3 separate regions of the Homo sapiens genome follow, and regions 2 and 3 are each linked to region 1. The links come from fine-mapping of genetic effects on gene expression. A gene starts in region 1. Each other region holds a variant in brackets. All regions are shown on one strand. Distances are between the middles of the regions. Region 1 holds the start of ZHX2 (zinc fingers and homeoboxes 2). Region 2 overlaps ZHX2 (zinc fingers and homeoboxes 2). Region 3 overlaps ZHX2 (zinc fingers and homeoboxes 2).

Region 1 (2,756 bases):
CCTCGCGCCCACAGCCGAGTTGCAAACGGCCGCTAGAGTTCGTTCTAATTCCCCAGAGCAGAGCTGCCCGGGAAGCCCCGACGCGACGCGCCTGCTAATCTGCAGGGCGGGCGGGGACTCCGCAGAGCCTCCCAGCCCCAGGCTCCCTTTGTTTTCTCGCTGCGCTCGAAGCTTCTAAACTAGCCCCCAGACCGCATCCCCTCGTCCCCGCCCGGGAGCTGCCCAAGAGTCCACAGGCCAGCCCAGGGGGAAACAAGGTACATCTGGGCAGGAATGCGCGGCGCAGACAGGTTGCCGCCTGAGATCCCGAAGTGTACCCAGATCCCGAATTCCTTAGAGCTCTTTAGCCGAGCACTGTGGCAGGAGCGCGGCGCCCGGAATACAAGTTCATGGTTCCGAGCCGGCGGGCGAAGGGCAGCGCGATCCCCCGCCACCTTTGCTCTAAGGCGCCTAGGGGAACCTGGGGGCTGCCGCGGTGAGAGCTCCGCTCCCACTGGGAACATTGGAGTCCCAGTTGCGAAAGCGACCCGCCTAGCTTCCGAGGGACTTCTCTGCGAGCACCGCAGGCGTGTGCATTTCTTCGAATCTGAGAATTCCAGCGAACTCGGGCTCTACCAGAGTTTAAGTCGGCCCCTGGGGCGTCTGTTTGTTTATTGGCTCTTAAGGGAAAAAAGTTTGAAGATCTTTAACCAGCCTCAGACCTGGCGCGGGCGGAAATCCCGGAATCTCCCCAAGCAAAAGTGATATAACTTCAAGTCGTTATATAAGTGGGGGGCTCCTTCTTCCCCTCCCTACGCCGAGCCTTCTCATTATCATTCCGGGAGTAAAATGTGTCTCGCTCAACATAGTTTTAAAATCGTTATTATTATTTTCCTGAGCCTGAAGCCGGGCCAAGGCGCAGGCAGCGCCCAGGGTGCGTGGTGGCCCCACCCGCGCACAGTCCCACGCAAAGGGTCCCGGGGCCCGGGTACCGCCAGAGCCGGGCCTGCAAGCGCGCCCTTCGGTCCCACGGTCCGCCACTCCACGTGGTCAAGATCAACAGTTTGTTGAGCTCATCAGTGACACCTTGAACTTTTCATAAAGAAAATGGGTATTGCACGGAGACGGTTTGGCCGCGGCCGCCGCGCGGGGTCGTGCTTAATATTCAATGATCTCGCTCGCGCCTCCCCCTCCTCTTCTCGCAGAAATTCCACCGAGTCCGTTACTGGGCTCAGACTTTTAAGTTAATTTACTGCCCCCCTACCTTGGCCAGTAACCAGCGCCTTTAGGGCTAGCCTCCCCCCCAGCTCCTGCCTGAAAAATGACATTTCGCCGGTGTCTCCGGAGGGGGCTGAATTTCACTTTGTAACTTTCTGCGGAACCCGAGCCCGGGTGGCAGCTCGGGTGGTGGTATCGTATGCAAATACGCATGCTGACGTTACAGATCATGTGGGTTTTGGCGTAGATTCCCCACTGATCGAGGCATTTTTTTTCCCTTTTTTTTTCCTTTTTTTTTTTCTTTTAAAAATTTTGGCCATCGTTCTCCGTACGGGGGCTTTTTCTGTCTGTCTGTCTGGCTGGCAGGCTGGCTTTCCCCCTCTTTCCCACGGAGCCCGAGCCGGGCGCCCGGTGGGGAGTGGGGAGTGGGTGGGGGGAGCCAGCAGAGTTCCATTTTGGAACGCCCGTGCCGCGTCTCCGCGTTCCCAGCCCGGGTCCCCGCGTTCACAGCCCCAGCGCAGGTAAGAAACTTCGCCTCGGCGCGGAGCCCCCCAGCCGGCGCCGCCGGCCCCAAACCCCGCACGCCGGGCGCCGGCCACTCCAGCCCAACTTTCCCACCGCCGCCGTCGCCGCCGCGGCTCCCGAAAATGTGTTGTTAATGGGACTTGGCCGGGTTTGTGATTGGAAGGGGGGTACGGAAGGGGGGGGGTGTGCAGGCTCTTTTTGCGGGTGGGAGGAAATGAGCGGATACAGAGAGGGAAGAAGATTTTTTTTTTAAGAGTTTTGATTACAAGTTTGGATAAATGGGAGCCAGAGCGAGGAGGAGGAGGAGGAGGAGGAAAAACATGTCTACGTTTCCCTATGTCGACATAAGCCACAAAAAAATATGGCGTCCGCTTTCGACAGGGCGTTACGTAGACCCGACTGTTTTTATTTATTTATTTCGTGGCCGTCTCCCTCCCTTCTTGGCCAAACTGCGGCGCTTTGTGCAAACGGGGCAGGTCCCGCGGGGACTCCACCGGGACGTGGCCCCGTCTCCGCGCGTTTTGGCAGGCGGGGGGCTGCGTGTGTCTGCTCCCCTCCCTCCCCCTCTCCCCTCGCTCCCCTCTCCCGGTGACGATTCGCCGTAATGTGGTGGCAGGAAGCATGACGCCGTGGGCCGAGGCTGCCTCTGCTCTCGTCGCTCCCGGCGGCTGCAGGCAGCGGGCGCGCAGCGCGGGCGGCAGCCGAGCTACCTGGCGGGGGCAGGGCCGGAGCGCGGCGCTGTCCTCACCCCCGCTCAGGTGCAGGGGGAGTCCGCGCGGGGCGGGGGGCCGAGGGCGGCCGCGGGACCCCCGGCCCTGCTGTCCGCTGCCAGCTGGCCGGAGCCTCTGCCAGCCCGAGCCCACGTTCGCCCCCCTGAACGGCAGCTGGCGCTTTTCGTCTGCCCCACAAGAGGTTAATCTTTGTTGGTGTTGCAGCTTCTTTGTGGCTTCCCCAGGACTTGTATCCTCGGCTTTGCAAACTTGCCCTTTTCCCAGCCGCTTTGCAGGAGGCTGCGGAGACGAAGATGAGCGGAA
Region 2 (2,756 bases), 56 kb after region 1:
GGGCTGAGGCCTAAAATGGCATCAGCACCAAGTGAGGACAGGGCAAAGATTTTATAGTCTCCTGTAAACAGGAAGTGTCCTAGTCTGACGTAACTGCTACGTTGTACCTGGATGGCCTCTTTCTTGATCTTCACGGGTACGTGTCTTCCAGCCAGGGTAGGTGTCTTCCGGCCGGCTTTCTTCCTGCTTCTGCTATTTTGCTGGCCCACACTGCTGGCGCAAGGCTTGCGCCTTGGTACTGGGCCTGAGAAGGGAGGAGTTATTCATCCCCTTAAGCTTTCAGGCCCCAGGGAGAATCTTACACTACTGGGCTGCATTTCCAGACAATTAGGGCATTCTAAGGCACAGGATGAGGTAGGAGGTCCGCACAAGATACAGGTCATAAAGACCTTGCAGATAAAACAGCTTGCAGTAAATAAGCTGGCCCAAACCCACGAAAATCAAGATTTTGACCAGAGTGACCCTCTGGTCATCCTCACTGCTACACTCCCACCAGCATCATGACAGTTTACAAACACCATGGCAACGTCAGGAAGGTACCCTATATGGTCTAAAAAGGGGAGGCATGAAGAATCCACCCCTTGTTTAGCATATCATCAAGAAATAACCATAAAAATGGGCAACCCCTATGGAGTAGCCATTATTTTATTCCTTTACTTTCTTAATAAACTTGCTTTCACTTTATGGACTCGCCCTGAATTCTTTCTTGTGCAGGATCCAAGAACCCTCTCTTGGGATCTAGATCTGGACCCCTTTCCAGTAACTGTATTACTGACCATCAAAGGAAACCCCATCTGAGCAATGGGTTCCAGACCCCCATCTCTAATCGTGAGCCCCATCCTGGAAGTCACTTGTAATAAGGAAAGTTATTCCATAAGCTGGTCCTGCCACTACCCCTACAGGTTTCAAACACCCACCCTCCTTTCCAAAACCAGACCCAGGTTACTGTGGTCACCTACTGGTGACTTCATTTGCATCTGGTGGTCAGATCTAGTCAGGGTGTAATTCGGCTAAATTAATAGTGCTAATAGTGCAAATTCCTAGTGCGTTTTACAGGTGGGGAATAGAGGGTGAGAATTTGGGATTTAAAACTGGCATTTCAGAAATGCTGTCACATTAGAGCTTCATTTCAGTCCCTTGGGGTGGCCACCAAGTAAACAGCTCAATTTCCATCCCTGCTGGAGGTACAGAATGCAGCATTCACACTTGCCAACAG[A/T]TAATGTCTCCTGTCTTTGTCGGTGCTTAATGGCTTTTAGTAGAGTTAAGGCTGAGAAGAAAGAGACTGACTTCCTCTTATTGGGTAAAATGGAAACACTGGGGAGACAATTCCATTTCAGACAGACCCTTTCCTTCTCAGATTACTGATCCACAACCCAGCCAACTCCCTTTCAGCTCATTCAGGTAACATGGAAGACAGAGGCCACCCGCTTAGGGGAGAGGAGGGTGGAAGAGCCCGTTGAGCTTTGTGTTTGGGATTTGTCAGCAGAGAGGAGATTTGCATTTCTAATAAGAGCCCCGTCTGGGTGTGCTTTAGCCCAGTGGCTGCACATCTCTGTAGCTCTCCAAGTGCTCTCAGTTTGCAGAGCAAGGGAAGAATCTTCTACAAAAACAAATAGCTGTGGGAAGAGAGCAGAAAGCACAGCACAGTGGGGTGCCAGGGGCACTTCCTGGGTATCAAGGAACGTTTAAAAATGGTATTACATCAAGTCACCACAGACACCCTGGCGAATATTCCTCGTGTGCCCATCCCTCACATGCCCTTTGTCTATGTAAGAGAAACTCATTACATGTTCTACTCTGAGATTTGGAGATTTATTGTTATTTCTCCAAAAAGAAGTAACGAGGCATGTCAGTCCCAGCGTGTTTATACAGCAGAAAACTGGGAAAAGAAAACAAGGTTCAACAAGAGGTGAATAGTACGATAATTAAACAATTAAATAAATAAATGGTTAAATACGTGGTAGAAACCTTTCGATCATATATGAAGTCTACAGTATTTAGTAATGTGATTTTTTTTTTTTTTTTTTTTTGAGACAGAGTTCACTCTGTCACCCAGGCTGGAGTGCAGTGGCTCGATCTCGGCTCACTGCAACTTCCATCTCCCAGGTTCAAGCGATTCATTCCTGCCTCAGCCTCCCGAGTAGCTGGGACTACAAGCACGTGCCACTACACCCAGCTAATTTTTGTATTTTTAGTAGAGACGGGGTTTCACCTGTTGGCCAGGCTGGTCTGGAACTCCTGACCGCATGATCTGCCCGCCTTGCCCTCCCAGAGTGCTGGAATTACAAGCGTGAGCCACCATGCCTGGCCAATGTGATTTTTTTAAAGTGGTAAATGTTAAATGAAAAATGCAGGATTCATACTGTATATATAGTTTTTATTTAAGAAAAACACATAATGCATGATGAAATTACAGCAAAATGTTAACAAAGTTGAGATCTTTAGAGATCAAATCAGAAATTATTATTTTTCTTTCTTTCATTTCTACATGTATTCCAAAGGGTTTTTCGTGTATGATTATAGAAGTTATATGTTGGAGCAGGGAACCCCACTATACCCTCATTACTTTTTTTTTCCCTTCCTTCTTTTTTTATCTTGGGCACACACTAGAATGTGGCATTGCTCTCTGTGGGCCCATCCGCACTCCATTCAGCCAAGTATTCTATTGCTAACAGAGAACAGAGCAGGTTGCACAAGCAATGGACAAAATCTGAACATTTCCAACTTCCCTCACCCCATCATTCACTCACCCATGA
Region 3 (2,756 bases), 190 kb after region 1:
GACTTTGGAAGGCCCCCACCCCAACCCAGGAGAGCCAGGAAGAAGCAAACCATGATGCCTTCCCCCCAGGGAACAATGGTCATTTGCCTGACATCTTGACTCTGTGGTTTTGTGTCTTCTAGGGAAGTCTGTTAGAACTGCTGTGCTGATCAACGGGACGCTCCGTCTTTGAAGAAAGAAGAGATGGTCTCTCCCCAGCCATGGGCCACCCTTGCCAGTGACTCCAAGTGGAACTACTTAGCTCGCGTGTGCCTGGAGGGTGCGGGAAGTCCAGCGACTCTCAGACGCACCTCCCAGAGGACCGGTGGGAATTGTTCATAGTGCCAAAGTCCTACTACTGCGTTTTCAATGGGTCCTTGTACATAGTTTGCTCCTCTGCCCTAGCCCTCACCTCTTGCTATACTGGAACCGATTTGTACAATGTGGGAATTTTGTTACCTTTTTAATCAAGGGCAACTTCCTTTTCCAGCACTACCATTGTAAGGTTTTTTTCAGGAGGGAGGGCTAACCACCTTGCTTTTCTCTTTTCTCTTTTTCTTTTTTTTATTTTTGTTTTATTAATTTGGGGAAAGGGGTGTTAGCATTAGTGCCATGATATCTACTGGATTTTAAGTAGGGAGACTTTATTTTTAAAGGTAGGTTGAAATTTGGGAGATTTCTCGGCAGGAAGGGCTGAAATCCAGGCCCCTGTCTCAACTTGGAGAGAGGTGACAGACGGCAGATCTTCCAAATCAAATTCCTTTCCAGTTCTTCCCCTGGCTGCCTTTTTGGGGGTCCCTGCCTTAGCCCCACACAAGGCTTTCTGAACTGCCAAGAGGGGATCTGGCTTCTCAACTGCTCGGCCTCTTGGGCCAGGCTGTGCCCAGCCAGCCCTGGGAGAACTGGGTAGCAGGTGGCTGACTTCTTTAAGCACCTTTCTAAATACCAGCAGAAGAGGCTCCCGCCTCTGTTAGCATGATCAGTACTATTGTGACATTAAAACAACAACAATAAGATCTTCCTATCTGGAGGGTACAGAGGTGAATGGCTTTGGTTTTCATTTCTCTTCTTCACTGCCTTTTCTCGGTGTGGTATTTGACAAGATTTTAGCTCAAAGCCTCACCATGAATTGATTTTTTTTGTTTGTGTGTGTGTTTGTTTTGGGACAATTTTAGATACCTGAGTGCACTTTTTCAGTTAGTCCTAACTTTTAAAAGAAGGAAAACCAAGAGACATATCTGGTGTACGTGTTGCAGTATGAACTCTGGTTGCAATCCCTCCCCGTCCCACACTGCCCCCCATTTGAGTAC[A/G]CCGCACAAGTCAAACGCTAGGAAGTTTGAATAAAACCAATTTTTCTAACTTGTTGCTCATTTGTTGTAACTCAATAAAGCAAAGACTAAACATTTTTATAACCTTTTCCTCTACTTCGCCTTCTTTATTGTCGTCTGGCTCCCGAGGGCTTGGTGTAAGGGTTCTGACTTGGATACCTCCCGTTTCAAATTCATTTTCCATCCTGGAGGGATCTGACATCGCAAACTGGACTTTAAAAATGGGACGTAGGCCCAGCGCAGTGGCTCACGCTGTAATCCCAGCACTTTGGGAGGCCAAGGCGGGTGGATCACCTGAGGTCAGGAGTTCAAGACCAGCCTGGCCAACATAGTGAAACCCCATTTCTACTAAAAATACAAAGATTAGCTGAGTGTGGTGGTGTGCACCTGTAGTCCCAGCTACTCAGGAGGCTGGAGAATCGCTTGAACCTAGGAGGCGGAGGTTGCGGTGAGCCAAGATGGCGCCACTGCACTCCAGCCTGGGCAGCGAGAGTGAAACTTTGTCCCCTCCCTCCCCCCACCGAAAAAAAACTGGATGTAAGTGTTGTAGGAATCTTCAGCAGATCTCATCGACACAGAGAAGGAAGGTATAGGCCCTTCCTTCTCCCGGGTCTCACAAATAGATTCATAAAATAGTCAAGAGAAGAGCTTCAGAGTGGGAATGAGAAGCCCCTCTGTGCACAGGCTCGCCCTTGGATGACCTGAGCTAAGTCGCTCCCCCTCCCTGGGCTGCTGGCGAGTGGTAGCTGGGGCACTGCCATTTCTCTGAGAAGGTGGCTTTTAAGTATCTCTGCCCTGGTGAGGTTTAAAGAGTCCCTCACTCTTCACACCTGACACTCGTCTAGACCAGTGGTTCTCAAACATGAGTGGGCACCAGCATCACCTGGAAGGTTGGTTAGACTGTCTGATCGGCATGTCTGGGGTGGGAACCGAGAATGTGCATTGCTAACAAGTTCCTCACCTTGGGAACCTCTGGTCTAGATGGTTCATTTTTACGGGAACTTACAGACTTTTGGCCAGTTTATCTAAACTTAGCATGTGTTTATTCTACAGATAACGGGAAAGACCCACTTCCCAAAATACAGGAAACACTGAAAAATTCAAGATTCAAAAGGGCCTGGCCTTCTCTGGGGGATTCCCTCAGTCCCCCATCCTGTGGGCTCCCATGACACCCTCTCTGCACATAGCCCTCACCACACAGCTCTCGGATTCATTTGGTCAGCTTGTCGATTCCCCCAAGCTGAGAGCAGGGGCCATAGATTTTCCATAACTTTACACCTCTCCAAAATTCCGCTAATTCTCTTTACCACTCAGCAAAGTTGAATGTAGACAGCGATTCAAAAATAAAAATAGGCCAGGTACAGTGGCTCACACCTGTAATCCCAGCAATTTGGGAGGCCGAGGCGGGCGGATCACTTGAGGCCAGGAGTTCGAGACCAGGCTAACCAA

What was found. PIP is the estimated chance that this variant, and not a neighbour inherited with it, causes the effect.
Region 2: its variant is fine-mapped to the expression of ZHX2 in caudate (GTEx, PIP above 0.99).
Region 3: its variant is fine-mapped to the expression of ZHX2 in whole blood (TOPMed, PIP above 0.99). The same link has a PIP of 0.9 or more in CD4 T cells and neutrophils.

The regions. Positions count from the first base shown.
Region 1 is chr8:122,780,229-122,782,984 of GRCh38, forward strand. It overlaps ZHX2 (zinc fingers and homeoboxes 2), which reads left to right and starts at 1,427. Exons shown (of 4, transcript NM_014943.5): 1 at 1,427-1,718. It overlaps ZHX2-AS1 (ZHX2 antisense RNA 2), which reads right to left and starts at 1,376. Exons shown (of 2, transcript XR_007061082.1): 1 at 1-1,376. RefSeq lists enhancers at 1-371, 372-871, 2,039-2,088, 2,744-2,756 and silencers at 2,139-2,208, 2,429-2,558.
Region 2 is chr8:122,836,565-122,839,320 of GRCh38, forward strand. All of the region lies in intron 1 of ZHX2 (zinc fingers and homeoboxes 2), which reads left to right. Among named protein-coding and RNA genes, the nearest start is that of ZHX2, 56 kb to the left of the region's middle. RefSeq lists enhancers at 1-406, 1,054-1,885. The variant A/T (reference allele first, on the strand shown) is at 1,217.
Region 3 is chr8:122,973,120-122,975,875 of GRCh38, forward strand. It overlaps ZHX2 (zinc fingers and homeoboxes 2), which reads left to right. Exons shown (of 4, transcript NM_014943.5): 4 at 123-1,391. Among named protein-coding and RNA genes, the nearest start is that of DERL1, 68 kb to the right of the region's middle. The variant A/G (reference allele first, on the strand shown) is at 1,290.